Linked DNA regions of Homo sapiens. The protein of the gene in region 4 interacts with the protein of the main gene of each other region in a biochemical or structural test. Each region holds a gene or a part of one and is shown on either strand. Other genes may lie near its edges.

Region 1 (3,368 bases), on a different chromosome or scaffold from region 4:
GGAGGGCACCAAGGGGCAGAGCCCAGCGAAGTGGAGGGGAGGGGTAAGGGAGGCAGGCCTCCAGGAGACAGCGTGGGCAGGTCCCCAAGGGGGCCTTGGTGGGTCGGCAGAGATGGTTCCGGCCCTGACCAGGAGGCCTGTGTCTGCTCAGACTGTCCACCCGTGATCGTCCAGAGGGGCTGGGGGTCCAACCCAGACAGGGTCACACAGCAAACAGGTAACAGACCCAGGGTGAAAAGAACAGACCTCTTGACTCCTCATCTGTTCCCTCAAATGGAAGAGCACTTTTCTGGCCTCCAGGGACCCCAGGTTGGAGACAGATGGAGGTGGGAGTGGGTGCCCCGTTTTCCTGAGACCCCTGTGAGAACTGGGCCAGGCAAAGCACATCCCCAGCCCTGGCTACACCTGCCCGCCCACTCCATCCCAGGCACCACTCACTAGACCACCAGGGGAGGCCCACACCCTTCTCAAAATGAAGAGGGTCTCTGATTTGTGGACACTGAGGACAATGATTTTAAGGGATGCTGGTGCTTCCAGATTTCAAGTGGGAATAGACTTCTTTGAATAAGCACTTTGGACACCCTCCACTGGGCAAGAGTGTCCCATCTTTTTCTCTGGCCCATTTCTCTCCCATCTCCCTCCCTCTTTCTCCTCTTCCTCCACTGATCTGGCTGTAAAGAGGAGCGCTACCGCCTCACAGGTCCTGCGTCCATCGCTTTTCAATTTTCACTGGATGGCAGGTGAATGGAAGCTCCAGGGTCTTTTGCCCCAAAATGACCCCTCCCACATGGAGGGGCTTGGGCTGAGCGGACGTGCAGATGGGTCAGTGGCCACACGGCCTACAGAAGAAGCAGGAGGGCTGAGAGCCCAAGGCCCATAGAGCCTGCCCAATGGGCCCAGAACCACAGTCTCAAGTCCCAGAAGCTTCAGACTGAGATGCTGAAATCAAAGAATCACCCACTTTCAGAATCAAAGGGCCAGCACTTCCTGGGATCCCAGACGCCCCAACTTAAGAGTCTCATAAGTGGGGACCAGATTCTGGGAATCTCAGAATCTCAGGACTAGCAAGCCCCAAACCCCTATTCTGGAGAAGCGAAGGAGCTGGGCTCCCATCCGAAGCAGCATCCTTCCTGGTGGCCGAGTCTCTAGATGAAGTGGCTCCCCATCAGGAAGCCAACCCCCAAGCGCGTGTGCACGCATCATGGGAATGCCTCATACCCCAATGCATGACTGCGCTGGGGTATCCAGCTCCTGCCTGCTCACCTCCTGTGACCGAGAACTCACTCCTCCTTGCAGCTCATTCCAGCTCCATGGCTTTGCTGGGAGGAAGTGCTCCCTACATCTTCGACCTCTCCAAGGAGGCCCCACAGAGACCTGGGACAGCCCCCAGGCCTCTCTCCTCTCGGCTGAGCAGCCTGTGCCAACCCTTCTTAAGGGAGGCTCCTCTGGGCATCTTGGAGACCCAACTTGGCGAGAGACCCCAGCTGTCACTCCAACTAGGGCAGGACCTCCCTGCCTGGCACCCCAGTCACCACAGACCTGGGGAACAGAGACCAAGCATCATCCCAGGCTCAGAGTCTGCCAGACCAACAGATGAATGAGTGGGTGGCCGCTTCTCCAGCCCAGCTACGTGTCTGGGAGCCAGGATCTGCCTGGGTGGCCCCTTAGGAGTTCGGCCCACATGCTGACTTCAGAGCATCCGGGGACTGCTGGGGCCTGGCGATCGGGGGGCCCGGCTGCTGTGTGCCGTGTGCGGCTTGCGGCTGATGATCAGCTCCAAGACATCACCCGCCTCGGCCAGGAGTGGCACCGCCAGGCAGCAGTCGAAGTCCCGTGTACGGACGTGGTTGACCTGCATGGGGCACAAGCAAGGGAACAGAACCGAGATGTCAGCCCTGCTGCGCTGAAGGGAGCAAGAGGCATGTGATGTCCTAAAGATGGGTCCTGCCCCAGCCTTGACGCAAGCCCTGACATCACCAGCACCACACACAGAGGAACATTCTTCCTCTAACTCTCTCTCAGTCCTTCTGTTAGGTTTCATCAAAGAGAAAGTTCTAGGAAGGGGCAGGTATACCTTTCATACCCCTCTAACTCTTGCTTTTCTCCCTTTCTCACATGAAAGAGCAGACCACACACTCAGAGAGCCTCCTGCCTAGAACTGTGTGATGTGACATTGTCTTCTTTCTATTTTATTTGCATTTTACACCCACTTTCTATTTCAAAGCAAGGGGTGCAAGATTTTCACTCCTAATGGAGACAAAAAGTTTCCTTTCAAAGTCAAATGTAAATTGAAAAAGTGCCATCAATTTAGAGAAAACATGAATTGAGTAAATTTCATATAAATATGGCAAAAAACACACTGAGGGAGCAAAAATAGCCAGGGCATGAGAAGGGGCGGCACGGAGTGCCCAGTACACGATGTCCCACGCTTCCCAGGCTCCCTCACAGTTAGTTAGGAAGGTCACATGAGGGGTTTGGTCCATCGGCTGTGAAGCAAGGTGATGAGTGTTGCTTCTGGGTGAAGGCGGAAAAAATCCACGTGTGACTTTCCAGTCTGTCTCCTCTGCTGTGGAGTCTGAGGAGGCCACGTGTCTCAGAGGGTCAATTCCAAGATGGGCGGATGCTCCATCAGCCCGGGACAAGAAGGCCCCCACCAGCCCACAATGGGCATGGGGTGTAAGAAGAAAGGTCTGTGTGTGCTCAGCCTCTGAGGCTGAGGGTGCTGGGGCCCGCAATGCAACTTTGGCTAACCTGACTCAGACTTGCATTGTCCTGCCCTCTTCACAGGCGATAGATGCAGGCTCTTTCCCCACCCTCAGGCTAGGAAACAATGCCACCCCCACTATGGAGCCCCTGCCCCAGCATTACCTGCAGGACCCTGTCGAAGGGCTGGAGGCCTCCACGGTGGGCTGGCCCATCAGGGCGCACAGTGTGGACATAGACACCTTTTTCCAGGAGGCCATCTGAGACGCTGAAACCAAAGTCATGCCGCATGGGGTCCTTGTGCAGGGTCACCTGGAAGCAGAAGGAGGAGGAGGTTCCTGGAACTCTGACCTTTGCCCCCAGCCTCTCACAGTAGCCCAGGTCCTTTGGTCTGGCATTCAGCGCCTCTGGCCAGCCACACCCCCCAGGCTGCAGCACCCCAGCCTCTTGCCCCTGGGCCTTCAGCCACCCCCGCCACCCCGCTCCCTGCCAACCTCCCTCAGCAGATGCTCCAGGCCACAACACTCAAGTACGACGGAGCCCTTAGGAGTGACTTCCTTTCAGCCCTTTCTCTGTCCTCTGGCTCTATCAGGGAGGAGGCCTGGCCAGGGCACTGTTACCTCCCCTGACCGTCACTCATTCCCATTTACCAAAGAGCTGCTCAG
Region 2 (3,500 bases), on a different chromosome or scaffold from region 4:
TTGCAGTGAGCCGAGATCCTGCCACTGCACTCCGGCCTGGCGACACAGTGAGTCTCCGCCTAAAATAAAAAAGTAAAAGAAAAAAGAAACAGGTTTAGAGAGGGAAGAGGCATAGAGGGTCACAGAGGTGTCTCACCCAGGCTAACTGGTTTGAGCTGGAGGGGCCTTTTCCCCACCACCCTCCACTCTGTGATGGAGACTCCACCCATGAGTACTCACCCAGACAATGTGGTGGACACTATAGACATCCGTGTCACCCATGTAGACACGGATGGCACGCAGTGTGAAGCCATACTTCTTGCCCGAGCGCTGGATGGTGATGGGGGAGCGGAGCCCACTGACAGCTGGTGAGTAGTCCCGGCTGGGTGAGGAGTCCCGTGAGGATGGGTTGGAGGACAGAGATCGTGGAGACATGGGACTAGCAAGGGGTGAACTTCCATGTGGGTCCACTACAGACACACAACCATGGTCAGAAATCAGAACCAAGAAGATAGACATCTCCCTGTATCTGCTCCTCCCTCCTCCCAAGGCAGTGGCAGAGCAGCCTCTCATTGGTCCAGCCTGGAGCCAATCACGGTGGACAGGGAAAATGCAGCATTTTCATTGGTCTGTCCTGCCTCAAATGGGGGGCAGCCCCTCCCCTGCCAGGTGGGGCCCAGCATTACCTGCAGGAATCATGACAGATAAGGCAGTGGCTGAGGCTGATTTGATGACTTTGCCCCCAGTTCGAGAAGGCCTCTTCTCTACTGCCACATCCCCTGACATCTGCTGGTGCCGCGCCCGGCGCAGAACCAAGTCATTGGTAGCCCTTGGGCCTGATGCATCCCCATCCTTCGAGGGTGGGCAGAGGTCACCTGGGCGTGGACGGTCAGCTGCAACAGAAAGCAAGTGTGTTAGGAATTAGTCCAAGGCCAGGGATTTCCCACATACTGTTTCCCTGCCTGGAATGCTCTTTCCACTTTTTACCCTTGATGGATGGTGAGTTTCATCTGAGCAGGTAACCTGCATGCCTCACTGCTCCTCATATAGAGACATAGTCTGTATCGGTCTGTATCACTGACTGACCATGGTATTGGGGTGTTTCTAATGTTAAGAATCCCAAATTGGGCTGGGTGTGGTGGCTCACGACTGTAACCCCAGCACTTTGGTAGGCCAAGGAAGGCAGATCACTTGAGGTCAGGAGTTCGAGACCAGCCTTGCCAACATGAAGAAACCCTGTCTCTACTAAAAATACAAAAATTAGCCGGGGGTAGTGGCGCGCGCCTGTAATCCCAGCTACTCGGGAGGCTGAGGTGCGAGAACCACTTGAACTTGGGAGGTGGAGGTTGCAGTGAGCCGAGATCACGCCACTGCACTCCATCCTGGGTGATGGAGTGAGACTCTGTCTCAAAAAAAAAAAAAAAAAAAAAAATCCCAAATTGCAATGTGAATAGGACCTGAGATCTTTCATAAACAGCACCAGGCTCGTGGGATGCTCACTATATGACCAGTAGGACATTGGGGAAGATTGGGGAAGGCAGCACGATAGGGCACTCACTGGCCTCGGAGTCCCCGGCGCTGGAGGTGCCTTCCCCTTGAGTCTCCTCTTTGGGGGCCCGTGCATCCAGGGATCCCGCGGGGTCGGAGCTGGGCCGGGGAGGCCTGCGCAGCCGGGCCTCATCCTCGTCCTCTTGGGGGGCGCTGAAGCGGCTGGGCTCCAGCAGCGCCGAGAAACGGCGGCGGGCGCCCAAAGGGGGACTGGCCTCTCCCTCCAGGAAACTGGCCTCGGACGCGGAGAATCGCTTGCTGCATGGAGGGGGCGTGGTTATGGAAGACACGCCCCCTTCGACCCCGCCCCCAAACTCCGCCATTCCCCTGCTCACATCTCCGGAGAGCCCCCTCTCCAGGTCTTCTCACGCAGGGTCAGGCCGCCCAGCCCCTCCCGCTTGCCGGCCACCTTCTCCTCGGGGCCCTTGGTGCTCGGCTCCCGCTTGCTGCTCCCTGCAGCTGCTACTGGGGTCTTGGGCTCGTGCTGCGACAGCTGCTCCATGCTGCTATACACCTGTAGGTGGTGGTGGGAGGCAAGTCCAGCCCGGGTTCCACTTTCACTCCGGAGCTAATCAGCTTCCTGGCAGTGGATCCCCCGCAAAACGCACTCCACCCTCCGAGGCCTGGCTCCGCCCAATTGTGCATGATCCCCCAACCTACAATTCTTCAGTTCAGGCCCCACACCACAAAGTTAGGCACTGCGTTTTATTCTAGGCTCTGCCCCGACGATGCCCTGACCAATCTGCTCTCTACACAGCCCCATCTTCCCAGCAACCCCCTTAATTTATGTCTCCTTAGCCCAGGCTAGGCCCTGCACGCCTCTACAAGTTGCTTCTCAAAGCAAGGCCTATGGCTTCTCTGCCCGTTATTAGAAAAAATAAAAATAAATAAATAAAAGCAAGACTTCGCTGGGCTTTACTCCGCCTTCGCTGCTGGCCTCATTCCCACGTCCTGACCCCGCCCCACCCACACCTAGCCCCGCCCCACCATGGCCTCAATCTGCACAACTGTCCTGATTCCTGTTAGATTCCACTCAGTGCCAAAGGCCCGTCCCATAGACTCCCGAACCTGCCTCTTGCGTGGCCTTACCACCTTCCAGACTCCCGCCCCATCAATAACTTCCCGCTCCTGAGACCTTGGGCACCAGGGAACCTGTTTCTCACTGTCTCTCCAAGCCCCATCCCTCCTGGGGTCTCGCCCTGTCCCACACCCAGACTTGGCCCACCTTGCTGAAGCGCGGAGAGCAGGAAGAGAACTGGCGGATTTCCACGGGCTCCTCCTCCGTCGTGTCATCCTCGTCATAGGAGTTCACGTGGTGATACCTGTCTGAGCGGGCTGGGGAGCGGGTATGGGCTGTGACTGAGGGTACGGGGTTCCTCCTCATATCACATCCCCACAGGAGCCCAGTCCTGGTTCAAGACGGGTTTACAAGTCTTCAGGTCAGGCCACGCCCCTGCCTCATTAGTGTATTTAATTTAGGCTCCGCTCCCAGGCAAGGTCCTTGCCCCATTCTCAGTGGCACCGTCTAGCCCCGCCTCCAAAGAGGCCACGCTCCACCTACAGTGCTCTGCACCCTGGCATCACCCCAGGCCATTCTGAGCGCTAGTACCTCTCTCTAGTTCAGTTCCAGGCCCACACTCACAACTCACCCAGGCCAGGCCCCACACCTAGCCCAATCTCAGGTTCTTACCTACATTTCAGCCTGAGCCCCGCCTGTATGTCAGCCCCGCCCCACTTGGCCCCGCCCCCACCAAAATACCACCTTCGCACCTAGGCATCACATCTTGGTACTTAGCCAGGCCCTATCCCAGGCTTTACTTACCCCAGGGTCCCTCTTCCCGGATCCCACCCCTCGACCCAGGTCGTGCCTGGTGTCCCAGCTCACTGTCAAAGTAGCTAGTGTCATCTTCCGACTCTAGGTGGGGGATGAACTCGGCCTTCTGCCTCAGCAGCCCTGTCCAGTCCAGGTCTCG
Region 3 (3,500 bases), on a different chromosome or scaffold from region 4:
CGAGCAGATCTCCAGATACCTGCAGGCACAAATGGGTGGAGACAAGGACCTGACCATTAGGCTGCAGCTGCCCAACCCTGGCCCAAGAAACCCCACCCACCACCAAACCAGGAGAAACCAGGGGGATGTCCGTGAGAGAATCAGGAGCAACCCTCACTGCTGGGCTCCAGCCACAGTTGCTGGGGCTTCATGGGGCATAGGAACAAGCGAGTGTGACATATACACACGTGTTCATATATTTTGTGGGGTTTTTGTTGTTGTTTTTGAAACAGAGCCTCGCTCTGTCACCCAGGCTGCACTGCAATGGCCCAACCTCTGCCTCCCAGGTTCAAGTGATTCTCCTGCCTCAGCCTCCCAAGTAGCTGGGATTACAGGCACACGCCACCACACCCATATAATTTTTGTATTTTTAATAGAGATGGGGTTTCACCATGTTGGCCAGGATGGTCTCGATCTCCTGACCCCGTGATCCGCCTGCCTCAGCCTCCCAAAGTGCTGGGATTACAGGCATGAGCCACCATGCCTGGCCTTATTTTTTTATTTTTAGTAGAGATGGGGTTTCACCAAGTTGGCCAGGCTGGTCTCGAACTCCTGACCTCAAATGATCACCCCGCCTTCGCCCTCCAAAGTGCTGGGATTACAGGCATGAGCCACCGTGCCCAGCCTACACGTATGCAGATACACACAAATATACACACACACTGAAACATGCATGATGGTGTAATAGGGCCTAAATTATTGCTGTGTGGCTATTCCTAATCTTGCCCCTTTCTCCTGGTTTCTAAGGAACATCCTCTTCTGGGCCAGCTCCCAGGTTCTCCTTGTTGCACAGAACCAAACTAATTCACTAATAAGAGCAGGGGAAAAAAAAAAAAAAAACTAAGCTGGACATGGTGGCTCACGCCTGTAATCCCAGAACTTCGGGAGACTGAGCCAGGACGATGGCTTGAGCCCAGGAGTTCGAGACCAGCCTGGACAACAAAGTGAGACACTCATCTCTAAAAAAGAAAAAAAAATTTTTTTTTTAATTAGCCAGGCATGGTGACACGTGCCTATAGTCCCAGCTACTTAGAGGCTGAGGCAGGAGAACCACTTGAGCCCAGGAGTTTGAGGCTGCAGTAAGCTATAAGGGTGCCAGTGCACTCCAGCCTAGATGACAGCACAAGACCTCATCTTAAAAAAACAGAAAAACAGACAGGGTGTGATGGCTCACGCCTGTAATCCCAGCACTTTGGGAAGCCAAAGCGGGTGGATCACCTGAGGTAGGGAGTTCAAGACCAGCCTGATCAACATGGAGAAACCCCATCTCTACTAAAAATACAAAATTAGCTGGGTGTGGTGGCACATGCCTGTAATCCCAGCTACTAGGGAGGCTGAGGCAGGAGAATCGCTTGAACCCAGAAAGTGGAGGTTGTAGTGAGCTGAGATCGTGCCATTGCACTCCAGCCTGGGCAACAAAAGCGAAACTCCGTCTCAAAAACCAAAAAAAAAAAAAAAAAAAAAAAAAAACAGAAAAACAAAACAACAACAAAACTAAAGAGGCTTGAGGCCAGGCATGGTGGCTCACACCTGTAATCCCAGCACTTTGGGAAGCTGAGCCGGGCAGATCACTTGAGGCCAGGAGTTCAAAACCAACCTAGCCAACAGGGCAAAACCCCATCTCCTCTAAAAACACAAAAAATTAGCCAGACGTCATGGCGGGCACCTGTGGTCCCAGCTACTTGGGAGGCTGAGGCACCAGAATCACTTGAACCTGGGAAGCAGAGGTTGCAGTGAGCTGAGATCACACCACTGCACTCCAGCCTGGGTGACAGAGCGAGATCCCCCATCTCAAAAAGAAATAATAAATTATTGTTTTCTAAACCACTAAATTTTAGGGTTGGTTTGTGATACAGCAACAGATAGCCAAAATACTAGCAGAAAAGACTCTTTGGCTTTTGTCTTATTTCTGCCTGGAATATGAACACAATTCTTGGGATGCAGCCACCATCCTGCCTCCACGAAGAAGAAAACCGCCCATAATTAAAATGGTAGAGCAGGAAGCTAGAAGCCTAGTTCCTTGATGGCATCCTTGAGCATCTACAGCAGCCTGAATAGCTGACCCCTGGACTTCTTTTTAAACATGTGGGAAAATTAACCCCTTTTATTTAAGTCATTGCTTGTTGGAGTTTCTGTACTTGCAGCCCAGTGCAATCCTAACACTGAGTAAAAGTTTGAAGCAGTTTTCATTATATTTTGGTTGCCAGGCTGTATCCCTATGACTGGGATACTGCACTGACAGTGGGCCATATGGAACCCCAGTTATATTGAGGTTACCTATGTAGGTACTCAGGCATGTACATGTTAAAACACACATGCACACACATATGTGCATACACATACAAATAACATATAAACAAACACACATGTACAAATCTATACTCATACATGCAAATGCTCTCATATATACATACAAGCACTTGCATTTACATGTCATCTACACGTGCGCACACTTAGAAACATATACACACGTTTCAGGTAATGTCTGGGATCAGGCTGGGAATCTAAGGTTCTATGAGTCTCTAGAAGGACTAATACTACTTCACCTTCACACTCACAGAAGGCCCTTCCGGGCCGGGCATGGTGGCTCACCCCTGTAATCCCAGCACTTTGGGAGCCCAAGGTGGGTGGATCTTGAGGTCAGGAGTTTGAGATCAGCCTGGCCAATGTGGTGAAACCCTGTCTCTAGTAAAAATACAGCCGGGCGCGGTGGCTCATGCCTGTAATCCTAGCACTTTGGGAGGCCGAGGCAGGCAGAATGCCTGAGCTCAAGAGTTCAAGACCAGCCTGGGCAACATGGTGAACCCCCGTCTCTGCTAAAATACAAAAAAAAAAAAAATTAGTCAGGCATGGCGGCGTGCACCTGTAGTCCCAGCTACTCAGGAGGCTGAGGCAGGAGAATTGCCTGAACCTAGGAGGCGGAGGTTGCAGTGAGCTGAGATTGTACCACTGCACTCCATCCAGCCTGGCAACAGAGAAGACTCTGTCCCAAAAAAAAAAAAAATACAAAAATTAGTCTATTAAAAATACAGGCGATGGCTCATGCCTGTAATCCTAGCACTTCAGGAGGCCAAGGTGGGCGGATCACCTGAGGTCAGGAGTTCCAAACCAGCCTGACCAACATGGTGAAACCCCATCTCTAATAAAAATACAAAATTAGCTGGGCATGTTGGCAGGTGCCTGTAATCCCAGCTACTCAGAAGTCTGAGGCAGGAGAATCGCTTGAACCCGGGAGAAGGGGACCGCAGTGAGCCAAGATTACACCACTGCACTCCAGCCTGGGCAACAGAGCGATACTCCGTCTCAAAAACAAAAACAAAGGCTCTTTTTTAGAGCATCGGCAAGTGACCTGTGAATCACCAGTTTTTGCCTCATGGGGGCAGGCAAGAGGTGTGGCATCGAGTGAGACCAAGAGATTTGGATGCTGGACGTTAACCAGCCCTCCCAGCCAATGTTGGGCA
Region 4 (3,069 bases):
GACCTTGGCAAGAGACTCGTAAAATCCTCGCTTCTCCATGGTAAAGGTTGAGACCAAAGAGTTGCTGCGAGAGGCTGTGGAATGTGAGGTGGCGGTGGCTGCGTTGGTAGGACGGAAAGCGTGTTTGGATTCTGAAGGACCGGGGGGATGCTCCTGCAAAAAGGAGTGGCAGTCAGACACGGTCAGTCACTCATGACCAGGTTAGTAACTCAGTGTGAGACTTGATTCTCTGAAAAACAAATAAAACACACACACACACACACACACACACACACACACACAAAGGCAGCAGCAGAAGCCATGCAGCATAAATGTGCAAGTTCTTTCCCAAAGCAACGCGTTTTTAGAGGTGAGTTTAAAGCAATGATAGCCAAAAACCATTTCCACTAGGAAACCAGTTCCGTCACCAAAGCTGAATTTGGCAGCCTATGACACTTTGAAGATTCAGCCAACCTAAACTGAAATACAGTGTTCCAGCTGCAACTGAACTGTGTTTAAAAGAGAACCTCCCAGCTGTATCATTTTATTTAAGAGTATATTCTCAGTCAACACTAGGAATTATCCCACATATTTTAGAATGAAAAAAATTAAAATATAGACTATAACAATGAAAGGCCATATTTCTTTAATAAGCACGAATCATCTTTCAAACATTATTCTGCTGATAAGACTTAGTTTTTACTTCCCTGAATTTCACTGCAACCAATAATAGCACAGTCTTTTCATTTTTTACTTAATTTTAGTTCTGAATAGGTCATATATTCATATGGCTTAATATTTTAAAGGTAACAAAGGGTACACATTTATCACATTTTAAACTGTGGTGAAATAATTAGTAGTTGAGAATGTTAATTTCAATATGCTTCTAACTAGATCAAATCTGAAAATATCCTTAAATATGACCATTCTAAATACATTGCTATATACTAGTATATTATATTCATTTATGATACCAGTGGCTTTGAAATCAAAGTGCTACAAATTACCAAAACACTACAGAGTCCTATTAGATGGCTAAATTTCAGAGATTTTTAAATGCCATGCAAACTATAGTAATGTACAGTTTATCCAATGCATATGCATGCATTAGTTTGCATATATTATTAGAACAATGGTGCATTTCGTAAGTATTGTATCTTAAAAATTTTTAAATACATAATATAAAATTGAAACTCTTGCAGCAGTTGAGTATATTAATTTTTATATGTTAATGTCTCTTTCTGTTAGTAAAGTTGTATGTTTTATTTTTTATTTTTAAATACACATATCCAACCTGATGACTACAGTGAAACAGTTTGCGTTAGTATTGACAAAATCAGTTATGATAACTGCAAAAGGCAGTTTGGTTAACTCAACTTTCTATGATCAGTTGTAAGTAGTAAGTCTGGGCCCTCCACTAAGAAGGCACGTTTGCGTGAGAGCCCACATACGTGCTGCATTCACCAGCTCTTGATGTATACCTCTGTATACAAGGGTTCGACAGCCTTCTGGCCTGCCGCATCTGGAACACAGTGCAAAGCTAAGATTAGAGTTAACCTATACTGGGTAGAGGGAGGAAAAGAGAAAGTTGTGCTGACAGTCATAGCTAGATAGTCCAATCTGCCCCCACCACAAAGCACAAAACACAAACATCCTTCTCCAACTTTTCCTCTTCCCAACAGACACTGTTTTTGCAGAGAGTCTCATACTTGACTGCTGAAAAAGTCACATAAAATACAGGCAGTTACAAAATGAACATCTATGAAAGTGACTTCTTAGATATTTCAAAAAGGATATAAAGAGAGAATGACTTAACAACTAAGAAATCAGAAACATTGATTTCTATTTATTTATCTGTAGTTATCACTACCAGAAAACTAATAAAAGGCGGTATTATAATACTATCAGAAAAAAATATTAAAAGTGTAAGTAACTAGCATATATGTCATAGTAAATCTAGATAATAAAGGCTATCATGCTACATATGAGACTACTTTCCGCAGATGGCAGTGTTACATTTTAAGATACTTTAAATTTTCAGACCTGAGATCAGTGGCCAAAGTATTCCAAATGCAAATCTAATTCTTATGTACTTGAACACAAGAAAAATCTTTTAAAAAAATATTTCTGAGCAGAATGTTTAGTTGTATTTCAATTTTATTATCATACTACCACAAAGATAATTATGGTAGTTTTCAGAAGCAGGCTGTTAAAGCAGGTTTTAAAATGAGAATTAAAACATGAAATGGAAACACTGGGAGCACTGAACTGTATTTAAGGCCCCAGCTGCTCAGTGATCTGATGGCATGGTTAAGCCAAAGGTAAAAAACAAAACAAAACCAAAAAACCTGAACTGAAATCAGAGGAAGTAAAGAGGAAATTGAGACGTTCACAAAACTGTGTAACGCTACAACTAAAAGTCTTACATGATCCTGATCACACACCATACTAAGAATCTGTCAGATTATGCCAAATCTAGAGCTACTGACAAGTAAGAACTCCTAAAACAAAGCAAGGAAATGTTTATTCTTTAGTTGCCCTACTTGTGCATTTAACACAATACAATGCACAGAAAGTTATGTATACATAATACTACAAGGAAGCATTAAATTAGAAATGCATTATTTTTTGCAAGTCCAATTGGTATAAAAGTCAACATGCAAATAAATCTCAAGAAAGAAAGAAACCGGATGGATTGGGAGAGAGGAAATTTGATAGGATGGGGGAGACGCAAGGGAGTATCACCCCAGAGAGCAGGAAACCTACAGAAGACGCAGATCTGCCGGGACCCCGCTGTGCTACAATGGCGCCAGAGACTGCTTTAATCCAACTGTGCATCTCTTCAGGGCTATCAGCCTAAAGGAAAAAAGAACTCATTCAAACAATTTTTTCTCAAAATCACCTACTTCTATACAGCCAATGTATTTATTTTGATAACTTAAAATACTGTCATCAACAAAATCACTCTAAGGCAACTGTTTCCAAAAAATTTAGAAATCATTTTTTTAAAGCCAGGTTTTGCTAGGTCTTAACTACACAGAGACATAAATTGAGCACTTCAATGTCAAGATCAGACCCATCAACAGGCGT
Region 5 (2,923 bases), on a different chromosome or scaffold from region 4:
CGTGGGAACTCCACCCAGCCTGACCCAACACTGCAGGTACGACTCGCTTACTGGGGTCCCGGCCCAGCAGCGTGCCCTGGCCTTCGAGAAGGGCAGCGTTCTCTTCAACATCGGTGCCCTCCACACGCAGATTGGGGCGCGCCAGGACCGCTCCTGCACCGAGGGTGCCCGCCGCGCTATGGAGGCCTTCCAGAGGGCCGCTGGTGAGGGCGGCCCGGGCCGCGGTGGGGCACGGCGCGGTGCCAGGGTGTTGCAGAGCCCCTTTTGCAGGGCAGGAGCTGGGGAGTGGTTAGGACATCAGTCCCTCAGGTAGGGGGAGTGAGCACATCAGGTCCATATGTGTCCCAGGAGCATCCCTAGCTGGCCGCCCTGAGTGCTGCATGGGGCAGAGATGGGCAGGTACAGGGCCCTGCCTGTGTGAGCACCCCTCCCTCCGCAGGGGCCTTCAGCCTCCTGAGGGAGAACTTCTCCCATGCGCCGAGCCCAGACATGAGCGCTGCGTCCCTCTGCGCACTGGAGCAGCTCATGATGGCCCAGGCCCAGGAATGTGTGTTTGAGGGCCTCTCACCACCTGCCTCCATGGCCCCCCAAGACTGCCTGGCCCAGCTGCGCCTGGCGCAGGAGGCCGCCCAGGTGAGCTCGGGCACCCGTGTCAGGATGCAGGGGGTGGGGCCGAGCTGGGGTCAGAGCCCAGGTCCAGGCATGCGTGAGCTCTCCCACCTCCTTCCTTGTGTGTCAGCCCCGAGCCAGCTGTTGTCCTGCTCCCTGGGGGGGCTGGTCAGGAACCTGGGGACCCGAGCCTCTGCCTCCAGGGGATGGCACAAAGCAGCAGGAACTGAGGTGCCAGGGAGGCTGCTGGGATGGTGGTCGGAGCAGGTGGAGGCTGGGTAGGGAGAAGCAGGCACCACCTGGAGAGTGGGAGGCCCTCGCGTGCCTGCCACATCCACCGGCAGGTGGCAGCCGAGTACAGGCTAGTGCACCGGACCATGGCCCAGCCACCCGTCCACGACTACGTGCCTGTCTCCTGGACTGCCCTGGTGCATGTCAAGGCCGAGTACTTCCGCTCCCTGGCCCACTACCACGTAGCCATGGCCCTCTGCGACGGCTCCCGTGAGTGCCCACCACACTTGCCCATGGTACTGCCAAGGCCCCCCCGCGCAGGGCTCACAGCCTCTCTGTCCCCCAGCAGCGACCGAGGGAGAGCTCCCCACGCACGAGCAGGTCTTCCTGCAGCCCCCCACCTCCTCTAAGCCCCGAGGCCCTGTGCTGCCGCAGGAGCTGGAGGAGCGCAGGCAGCTTGGTAAGGCGCCCATGGGTGGAGTGCCCTGGGGCTCAGATGGTCACCAACGGTGGCAGGGTGTCCCCCACCACCCTCATGCTGTTTGCCACCTGCTGTCCCCGTGCTGACGAGTTGGGCCACCTACCTATCCCTGGATGGCCTGTGCCTGATGGGTGACGGCCCAGCGCAGGGGCCCCAGGAGTGCTGGGCAGCCTCTGAGCAGGTGGGAGACCACTGGGAGCAGCTCATCCCTGGCCCCTGCTTTGCACGTGGCAGAGCCCTCCTGCACAGCCAGCTCCTCACCCCCGTGGCGCGCACCCCCAACGAAAGTGGCTGTGATGAGCCCCACAGCCCTGGCGTTGCCCACTCCTTCTGCCACGTCCCAGGGCCCACGGGCCCACATGGTGTGTGACATCCCAGTGCCCCGCGTGCAGGCAAGGCACACCTGAAGCGTGCCATCCTGGGGCAGGAGGAGGCGCTGCGGCTGCACGCCCTGTGCCGCGTCCTGCGCGAGGTGGACCTGCTTCGGGCTGTGATCTCCCAGACGCTGCAGCGCTCACTGGCCAAGTATGCGGAGCTCGACCGTGAGGATGACTTCTGTGAGGCTGCCGAGGCCCCGGACATCCAGCGTGAGCAGCCAGGGCCTGTCTGGGTGGCTGCATCCCTGGCCAGGGTGGGGGCCTTCGTCCTGGAGAAAGGGAGGCTGATTGCATTAAAGATGCAGTCACCACGATGAATTAAACAGCAGTAGCACTTTCCAGGCCACGATCACAGGGACCCACAGAGCTGCTGGGCCCTTCAGGGGCCTGGGGGATGACCACGCTCCTCAGCACCTCCCTCCCTGCACTGGCCTCCTACCCTGAGGGGAAGCCCACAGACCCAGGACAGGCATGGCTGGGACTTCAGGGAGGGATTTTGGGAGCCACTTGGGGCAGAGGGGGCCGTGTGTTCAGGGCACACCTGGGGCAGCTCCTCCCACCATTGCAGAGTGGCCAGGCCTGGAGGTCAGAAGCGGGGCCTGTGTGCACTCAGGGTCATGCCCTGCGCCCTGGAAAATCCCCGAGGCAGGTCTCCACAGTCTCCCAGCTTAGCTCTGCTCTTACACCCTCTCAGCTAAGACCCACCAGAAGCCAGAGGCCAGGATGCCACGCCTGTCCCAGGGGAAGGGGCCTGACATCTTCCATCGGCTGGTGAGCACACCCGTCCCCAGGCACCGCCCAGCATGGGCAGCTTGGGCTGTGTGGCTCTGACCAGCACATGGCCTCAGACAGGCCATTGATGGTGGTCCAGCCCTCCCCACCCACCTTGTGGAACCCCACGGTGTCCCTCGGTGCACAGGTTGGATGGATGTGCTAGTCAGGCGGGGTCTCCTCAGTGTGTGGCCCAGCTGGGCCTCTGACCTCTGAGCCCCTGCCAGGGGCCCCTGTCTGTGTTCTCAGCCAAGAACCGGTGGCGGCTGGTGGGGCCCGTCCACCTGACCCGAGGAGAGGGCGGCTTTGGCCTCACGCTTCGGGGAGACTCGCCTGTCCTCATCGCTGCCGTCATTCCAGGGAGCCAGGCCGCGGTAAGGGCCCCGCCGGCCCCCTGAGGCTGAGTCCTTGGTGCCAGCCAGGGTGTCCTGTCCCCACCTCACCGTCCAAGTCT
Region 6 (3,500 bases), on a different chromosome or scaffold from region 4:
AGCCAGGCATGGTGGTGGGCACCTGTAATCCCAGCTACTCGGGAGGCTGAGGTAGGAGAATCTCTTGAACCTGGGAGGTGGAGGCTGCAGTGAGCCGAGATCGTGCCACTGCACTTCAGCCTGGGTGACAGAGTGAGACTCCGTCTCAAAAAAAAAAAAATACTCCATACAGTATTTTTGTTGTGATACACACTGCACCATAAACACATTCCCAGGCAGGACAGATCAGGGAAGGGGGTATGTACCATGCTAGTATTTCTCATGCATTAAATGTATTATTGTTTCTTTGTTTCAACTCTTTTTTTGTTAACAGTTTGCAAGGTTTTCAGCTCTTGCCACCTTCCTAGCCTGTATGGATGGGCCCTATTGTGTGTATTCACTCCCCACAGACCGACCCTTAGGTGACGTCTACGTTTTGGCTATTGGGAGTAACGCTGCTGTGAACACGGGCGTGTATATGTCTCTTACAGACCCTGCTCTCAATTCTCTTGGGGATATGCCCGCAGGTGGGGTTGCTGGATTATATAGTATTCTATTTTTAATTTTTGGGGGCATCGCCATGCTGTCCTCCACAGTGGCCGCTCTCTTTTGCATTTCCAGCAGCTGTGCACCGGGTTCCGACGTCTACCCTCCTCGTCAACACTTGTCAGTTTCTGTCCTTTTGGTCCTGGCCAGCCTAACGGGTGTGAGGTATCGAGGGGGATGCCCGTCTCTTTTGCTCACTGCTGCGTTCCCCAGAGCCTAACCCTTCACAATGGCTCAGTGAGTATCTGGTGAAAAGGAATGAATGGGCCTAAACTCTCAGTCTGTGATTCCCTCTGCAAAATGGTGGCAGGACATTTATTTTGCAGGTGCGTGCGAGGAGGGGCGGGGATCCGAGATGAAGCCACTTAAGGGCCAGTCTGTCCTCATCACCCAGGCCCCAAACCTCAGCGCCGTCCTTTCGTTTTTTTTTTTTTGTTTTTTTTTTTCTGAGATGGAGTCTCACTCTGTCGCCCAGGCTGGAGTGCAGTGGCTCGATCTCAGCTCACTGCAACCTGCCCCTCCCACGTTCAAGCGATTCTCCTGCTTCTGCCTCCTGAGTAGCTGGGACTACAGGTGCCCGCCACCACGCCCAGCTAATTTTTTTTGTATTTTTAGTAGAGATGGGGTTTCACCATGTTGGCCAAGCTGGTCTCAAACTACCAACTTCAGCTGATGTGCCCACCTTGGCCTCCCAAAGTGTGGGGATTATAGGCGTGAGCCACCGCGCCCAGCCTCTGGTTCTCTGGAACCCCAGAGTGAACCCTTTCCCGAATCCTGCAGGCTCGACCCTGAACACGGATTCGGAGTCAGACTGCCTCTCATCGCCTCTCAGACAGAAGCCCGGCCCACACCGCCACCCTGCCCGTGTCCAGAGGTGAGAGGTGCGTTTATACCCTAAAGTGGACCATGCCACCTTCAGTGGCCTCCAGATGCACCCAGAACAAGATGTCGCAGCCTCCCGTGGCCCTGCATGGCCTGGACCCGCTGCCCCTCACCCCTCAGCCTCTCACTCTCCGTCCCTCACCCTCCGCCCCTCACTCCTCAGCCTCTCACCCCTCTGTCCCTCACCCTCTGCCCCTCACTCCCCAGCCTCTCACCCCTCCGCCCCTCACCCCTGCGCCCCTCACCCCTCCACCCCTCACCCTCTGCCTCTCACCCCTGCGCCCCTCACCCCTCAGCCTCTCACTCTCCGTCCCTCACCCTCCGCCCCTCACTCCTCAGCCTCTCACCCCTCTGTCCCTCACCACTCCGCCCCTCACCCCTCCGTCCCTCACCATTCCGCCCAAACATCTGTCTCAGGGTCTGAGCACCAGCTGTTCCCCTGCTGCCCAGATTGCGTCTTCTTTCTCATCTCCTAGGCCCCCCTCACTGCCATGGGTCTCGCTGATGGATACCCCAGGCCTTCCCGGACCACCCTGGGTGATGGGCACTCCGCCCCGTCCCTCCCAGCTCTTGTCCCCTGGGATGCGCCCCATATGTGAGTCACCATCTCGGCCGCTGTCCTTGGCATCAGCTCTGCAAGGTCAGTCCCGTACTTGGTGAGGGTTTACAAAAGGGGTGCATGAGGTGGGGGCACACAGGCCTCCTGCGATCCATGGAGGCTTGGTGGGGTGCTAGGGACAGGAGGGGACAGCCCTTAGGGGTCTGGGAGCCCTACCTGAACCTCTTGATGTTCTTCTCACACACCCGGATGAAGAGCACGATGGGGTAGATGTTGGACTTGATCAAGTCTCTTGTGCAGCCGATCCCAGCCTCCAGCAGGCAGTGCTTGTTCTGCGGGCACAGCGGCTTTGGTCAGCAGCAGCCCACCCACCTCCCGCTCCTGTGAAGGTGCCTGCAGCGGGGCCTGGATGCAGGGTTGGGGTCTATAGCGGGGCGGGAGCCCTGAAAGCCACCTGCCGCTGATCCAGGAGATGAGACCCCCACATGAGTCTGGACACTCCAGGACTCTGCTGACCACAGTGATGTTCATGGGCAGAGATGAGGCCCCGGACGGGGTGAACCAGGTGGCGTGAATGAGTTTGAATGAAACACCTGCTACCAGCCGGGCGTGGTGGCTCACGCCTGTAATCCCAGCACTTTGGGAGGCCCAGGCGGGCCGATCACTTGGGGTCAGGAGTTCGAGACCAGCCTGGCCAACACGGCAAAACCCTGTCTCTACTAAAAGTATAAAAATTAGCTGGGTGCGGTGGCCCACGCCTGTAATCCCAGCTACTCGGGAGGCTGAGGCAGGAGAATCACTTGAACCCGGGAGGTGGAGGTTGCGGTGAGCCGAGATGGTGCCACTGCATTCCAGCCTGGGTGACAGAGTGAGACACTGTCTCAAACACACACACACACACATACACACACACGCACACACACACACACCCCAAAACACCTGCTACCCTAGCCAGCCTTCAAGTAAGAGGGTAGGGAACACATGAAGGGTGAGGCGGCGAGGCTGGCAGGTCCCAGGAGTATCTGCAAGGTTCTCAACCATGAGCTCATCATTTTGAGAAAGGGCAATTTCTGCTTTGCTGAAGGCATCACTTAAAAAAAAATTCCACCAAATGTTGGCATGGTGGCTCATGCCAGCAATCCCAGCACTTTGGGAGGTGGGAGGATTGCTTGACGCTAGGAGTTCGAGACCAGCCTGGGCAATATAACAAGACCCTATCTCTAAAAAAATTAGAAAATCATTAGCTGGGCATGGTGGTGAGTAACTGTAGTCCCAGCTACTCGGGAGGCAGAGGCGGGAGAGTTGCTTCAGCCTAGAAGTCGCGGCTGCAGTAAGCCGGGATCATGCCCTGCACTCCAGGCTGGGCAACAGAGCGAGCCCCAGTCTCTAAATAAATAAAACATCAAACTTTGCATTGGAATAGAACATAAACACAGCATTCTAAGCATGCAGCTCAGTGAATTTCACAAACTGAACGCAGTCTAGCACTCGTGTCTGGAGGTGGGAATGACCCCCCTCGCCCAGGGTCTCCTTG
Region 7 (3,500 bases), on a different chromosome or scaffold from region 4:
CGACTTCTTGTCGATGTCTTTGATGGTGGCCTCATAGGAGTCCCCATTCTGTAGCTGCACCTTGAGCTGCTGCCTGCCCGGGGCAGCACTGTTGCTGGACACCACGTGGGCATTGGTGATGATCAGGCCGGCCTCTGACATGATGAAGCCAGAACCGCTGGACAGGGGCACGTTGCGGCCAAACAGCGGGTGTCTGCAGCCAGGGAGACACAGGCGGGCATTTAGGGTGGGGCTAGGACGCGGGGGAGTCAGGCGCAGTGGTGGGGCTGGTCAGCGAGGAGCAGAGCCAGTGTGTGGCTGACAGAACACAGGTCTGGAGTCCCTCAAGCTCCCATTTGAATCCTGGCCCTGTGACCTGGCCAAGTCACCGGCGCCTGCACCCATTCACAGCCATAAAGAGGTGATGATGATCACCTCTCGCTGCAATTTGCTGAGATGAGACAGGCTGCCTGCGACATGTCAGATGACTCCCAGCTTGCACTCGCCATCCTGACTACGGAGCACGGAGCCAGACAGACCAGGATGCTAATCCCAAGTCCAGGACCCACTTATTATCTGCCTGACCGTGGGCAGGTCAGTGAAGCTCTCTGAGCCTTGGTCTCCCCATTTGGGAAATGGGACAACAACACCTCCTCCGCCGAGTGGTGATGCCTGGGCTCTAAAACGCCTCTCAACAAACAGGACAATAATTGGCCCTAGGGGAAAAGCCCCATTGCACACACAGCATCCTGCAGGGCTGCAGCAGGTACCCAGGAAGGGAGGCTCCCCAGAGGCTGGGGCAGATTCCTGATCATCCCGACAGGGTGAGTGCTGGGAGGGCTGAGAAGGCTTATTCCCACCTCCCTCTACCCTCACCCCCAGGCTAGCTGCCTAAAGCCCCAAATGTGGCAGTGCTGGCAGCAGGCAGATGCAGGACCCGAGCCCTGGACACCCCGAGGGCAGGGGTGCAGAGGCACAGATGAGGCCAGCCTGGGCCCTGCCCTCTGTGAACGGTGTGGAGCTGGCCTGGGTTTGCATTGGTGTCTGCCGATGGGCAACAATCCCCAGTTCTCACCAGAGCTCTCTGAGTAGAAACCACAGCCCCACATCCAGCAGGGGAGGAGGCTGAATGCCAGACACAGCCTGGGACCTTCTCCAGGGTGGGAACCTTCGGGACCCCAGCGTGGGGCCCAGCCCAGAGCAGGTACTCACTCCCTGAGGCTGCTTAGTAGAGATGAGCAAGGAAAATGTGCGAGGGACAAAGTATGGAGGGATGGAAACGTCTGGCACGTGCAGGCAGGTGAGAGCAAGAGACAAAGCATGGAGGGATGGGAGCGTCTGGCACGTGCAGGGAGGTGACAGTCTCTGCAAAGTACAGGAGCTTCGCTGTGACCCACAGGACCAGAGATGGCAGCGAATGCCACCCTGTGCTCCCTCTGAGGCAGGCAGGCCATTGAATGCTCATGGGCACCCTGCAAGGGGGGTGCTGTGGTGAGCTGTATCCCTGCCAAGAGATACGGCCAAGTCCTAACCCCATGTGACTGTGAATGTGACTTTATTTGGAAACAGGGTCTTTGCAGGTGTCCTGAAGTTACGGTGACATCAGAGTGTGTCTGTGTTGTCTTTAAGGGAGGGAAGTCCAGTCTCACAGAGGGGAAGGCCATGAGATGATGGAGACAGAGCAGAGAGAGGGGTCTAAGGGCCGAGGCGTACCAAGGACTGCGGAAAACACTAGAGCCAGTAGAGGGGCCTGGGACACTCCCCCAACATCCCCCAGAAGAAAGCAGCCCTGCTTGATTAGGACCTTGACACCTTGATTAGGACTTCCAGCCTCCAGAACCATGGGAGCAAACATCTCTGTCATTTTAAGCCATGCAGTCTGTGGTACTTTGTTATGGCAGCCACAAGAAACTACTGTCGTCCCTAACTCTCAGGTCTTTATGGTGGGAAAACTGAGTCCCGAGACGCTGAACTACTTGCCTAGGTCAGGCGGGCAGGCAAAGGGCAAAGCAGGGGTCTGCCCCAGGCAGCCTGGGCATCTGGCCACTTGGCCACCCCACACGGTGACCCCAGCATCTGTCCACTCACATCCGCAGCCAGCTTCTGCCACACCCACTCCGTGTGTGCCCCAGAGTAGGAACTGCACCTGTTTTGCCTGCGGAAGCCCCAGGGTGCCTCACAGGGCCAGGCACCTGCGGGGTCTGCAGAAAATGCCCGCGGCTGCCCACTGGCCTCCATGCCCACACTCAGACCTCAGGTCAGGGGTCACAGCCGGGAGGCCTGTGCTGGAAAAGCATCTGTCTCATCTTTGCTGGGTCTCACCCACCCACTCAGAGCATCAGTCACTGGAGGCTCTGAGGGCAGAAACGGCCTCCCAGCCGGGCTGGAGTCAGTAATTAGTTGGTTCAGAGCCTGGTGGCTGGGGCCTTCCAGAAAGATGCTGCCCCCATCCCTACCTCCTGGAAGGCCAGCAACGTGCCACTTAGTGCATCCAGTTATAATTTCCTCAATGACATGTCTCAGGGCCCGGGGCTCGAGGGAAGGGCAGTGAGGGGTCAGTGTGCTGCCAAGGGGGCAGTGAGAGGTCCATCAGCACGGGGCACCGGACAGGGTGGCAACCAGGGCTGTGGGTCCTGCATGGGTGGTGCCTCCAGGGCTGTTTTGAGAAACATGGGCTACACAGCCCACAGCCCAGGGAGCTCCCAGCAGGTGTGGAGGATGTGATGCTGAGGTGCTATATGCCCGTCACGCGCTCTCACACCCCTGTTCAAGGAGCACGACCTCTGCTGGAGAGCCCGGGATGGGGAGGGCAGAGGGGCCGTGACGCCTAGTGACAGGGGCTTGGACCAGACAAGCGCCGAGCCAGCCAGCAGGGAGGCGGTGCTGGAGCAGGAATCACTCCTGGGATCTCCCCATGAGCCACCAGATGCTCAGTCCCCAGGGCCGGGCCTAGGGCAGTGGAGCCTCGTCACAGGGAGGCTGGAGGCCTCAGGGAAAGTACCGTGAAAACAAGCAAGTCCCTGGAGCCCTGGCCTGCGGCCTCTGGTGACTGCTCATTGCCGGCTCCGTGTCCGCCTGGACCCGCCGTCTGATCCCTATCAGGGTGGAATGAGGCTTGGTTCCGGGGCCTCCTCATCAGGCTGTTTGCCGGCTCTGTGCACACCCAGGGACCAAAGGGCCAGCAAAGGTGGATGGGAGAAACACTCTAAACTTCAGAAGAGTCATTCAGTCTGCTTCTGCGGGATATAAGTCAATCTGGGATGAGCCCTCAGGATTCGGTGTGAGCGATCAGACATTGGGCAGCTTGCACAGCGGGAGGTTCTGAAGGCAGGGCTCCCCCAAACCAGCTCAGAGGGTCTCTGTGATGGGGGAAGTAGGAGAGGCTGGGGATGGTGGCAGGGACCGGGGCAGGCCCTGTGGGAAGAAGGGGAGGAGGCTTTGCCTGTGCATCTGCAAGGAGAGGCCTTGCTCGGGGGTGAAGCCACACGGTACACACCACTTCCTCTACGGGGCTGGGACAT

What was found.
Region 1: the proteins of PLEKHA1 (region 4) and GRIP2 interact in a test that uses a peptide from one of them, tested with the Homo sapiens proteins (one large-scale study listed by IntAct).
Region 2: the proteins of PLEKHA1 (region 4) and MAST1 interact in a test that uses a peptide from one of them, tested with the Homo sapiens proteins (one large-scale study listed by IntAct).
Region 3: the proteins of PLEKHA1 (region 4) and SNTA1 interact in a test that uses a peptide from one of them, tested with the Homo sapiens proteins (one large-scale study listed by IntAct).
Region 5: the proteins of PLEKHA1 (region 4) and RHPN1 interact in a test that uses a peptide from one of them, tested with the Homo sapiens proteins (one large-scale study listed by IntAct).
Region 6: the proteins of PLEKHA1 (region 4) and CARD11 interact in a test that uses a peptide from one of them, tested with the Homo sapiens proteins (one large-scale study listed by IntAct).
Region 7: the proteins of PLEKHA1 (region 4) and HTRA3 interact in a test that uses a peptide from one of them, tested with the Homo sapiens proteins (one large-scale study listed by IntAct).

What each region holds. Positions count from the first base shown.
Region 1 is NC_000003.12:14,491,975-14,495,342, forward strand, and holds part of GRIP2 (glutamate receptor-interacting protein 2), read right to left. Parts: intron 3,016-3,368; coding exon 2,869-3,015; intron 1,853-2,868; coding exon 1,691-1,852; 3' UTR 1-1,690.
Region 2 is NC_000019.10:12,866,015-12,869,514, reverse strand, and holds part of MAST1 (microtubule-associated serine/threonine-protein kinase 1), read right to left. Parts: coding exon 3,413-3,500; intron 2,863-3,412; coding exon 2,753-2,862; intron 2,042-2,752; coding exon 1,863-2,041; intron 1,786-1,862; coding exon 1,538-1,785; intron 873-1,537; coding exon 666-872; intron 450-665; coding exon 220-449; intron 1-219. UniProt on the Homo sapiens protein: Microtubule-associated protein essential for correct brain development. Appears to link the dystrophin/utrophin network with microtubule filaments via the syntrophins. Phosphorylation of DMD or UTRN may modulate their affinities for associated proteins.
Region 3 is NC_000020.11:33,412,764-33,416,263, forward strand, and holds part of SNTA1 (alpha-1-syntrophin), read right to left. Parts: intron 1,872-3,500; exon of another isoform or gene 20-1,871; coding exon 1-19. UniProt on the Homo sapiens protein: Adapter protein that binds to and probably organizes the subcellular localization of a variety of membrane proteins. May link various receptors to the actin cytoskeleton and the extracellular matrix via the dystrophin glycoprotein complex.
Region 4 is NC_000010.11:122,426,708-122,429,776, reverse strand, and holds part of PLEKHA1 (pleckstrin homology domain-containing family A member 1), read right to left. Parts: intron 2,836-3,069; coding exon 2,746-2,835; intron 1,696-2,745; coding exon of another isoform or gene 1,631-1,695; intron 1,520-1,630; coding exon of another isoform or gene 1,397-1,519; exon of another isoform or gene 1,357-1,396; intron 154-1,356; coding exon 1-153. UniProt on the Homo sapiens protein: Binds specifically to phosphatidylinositol 3,4-diphosphate (PtdIns3,4P2), but not to other phosphoinositides. May recruit other proteins to the plasma membrane.
Region 5 is NC_000008.11:143,378,876-143,381,798, forward strand, and holds part of RHPN1 (rhophilin-1), read left to right. Parts: intron 1-36; coding exon 37-203; intron 204-439; coding exon 440-633; intron 634-953; coding exon 954-1,110; intron 1,111-1,186; coding exon 1,187-1,300; coding exon of another isoform or gene 1,301-1,456; exon of another isoform or gene 1,457-1,713; coding exon 1,714-1,908; intron 1,909-2,392; coding exon 2,393-2,469; intron 2,470-2,696; coding exon 2,697-2,843; intron 2,844-2,923. UniProt on the Homo sapiens protein: Has no enzymatic activity. May serve as a target for Rho, and interact with some cytoskeletal component upon Rho binding or relay a Rho signal to other molecules.
Region 6 is NC_000007.14:2,907,868-2,911,367, forward strand, and holds part of CARD11 (caspase recruitment domain-containing protein 11), read right to left. Parts: intron 2,299-3,500; coding exon 2,183-2,298; intron 1-2,182. UniProt on the Homo sapiens protein: Adapter protein that plays a key role in adaptive immune response by transducing the activation of NF-kappa-B downstream of T-cell receptor (TCR) and B-cell receptor (BCR) engagement.
Region 7 is NC_000004.12:8,283,254-8,286,753, reverse strand, and holds part of HTRA3 (serine protease HTRA3 isoform 1 precursor), read right to left. Parts: intron 194-3,500; coding exon 1-193. UniProt on the Homo sapiens protein: Serine protease that cleaves beta-casein/CSN2 as well as several extracellular matrix (ECM) proteoglycans such as decorin/DCN, biglycan/BGN and fibronectin/FN1.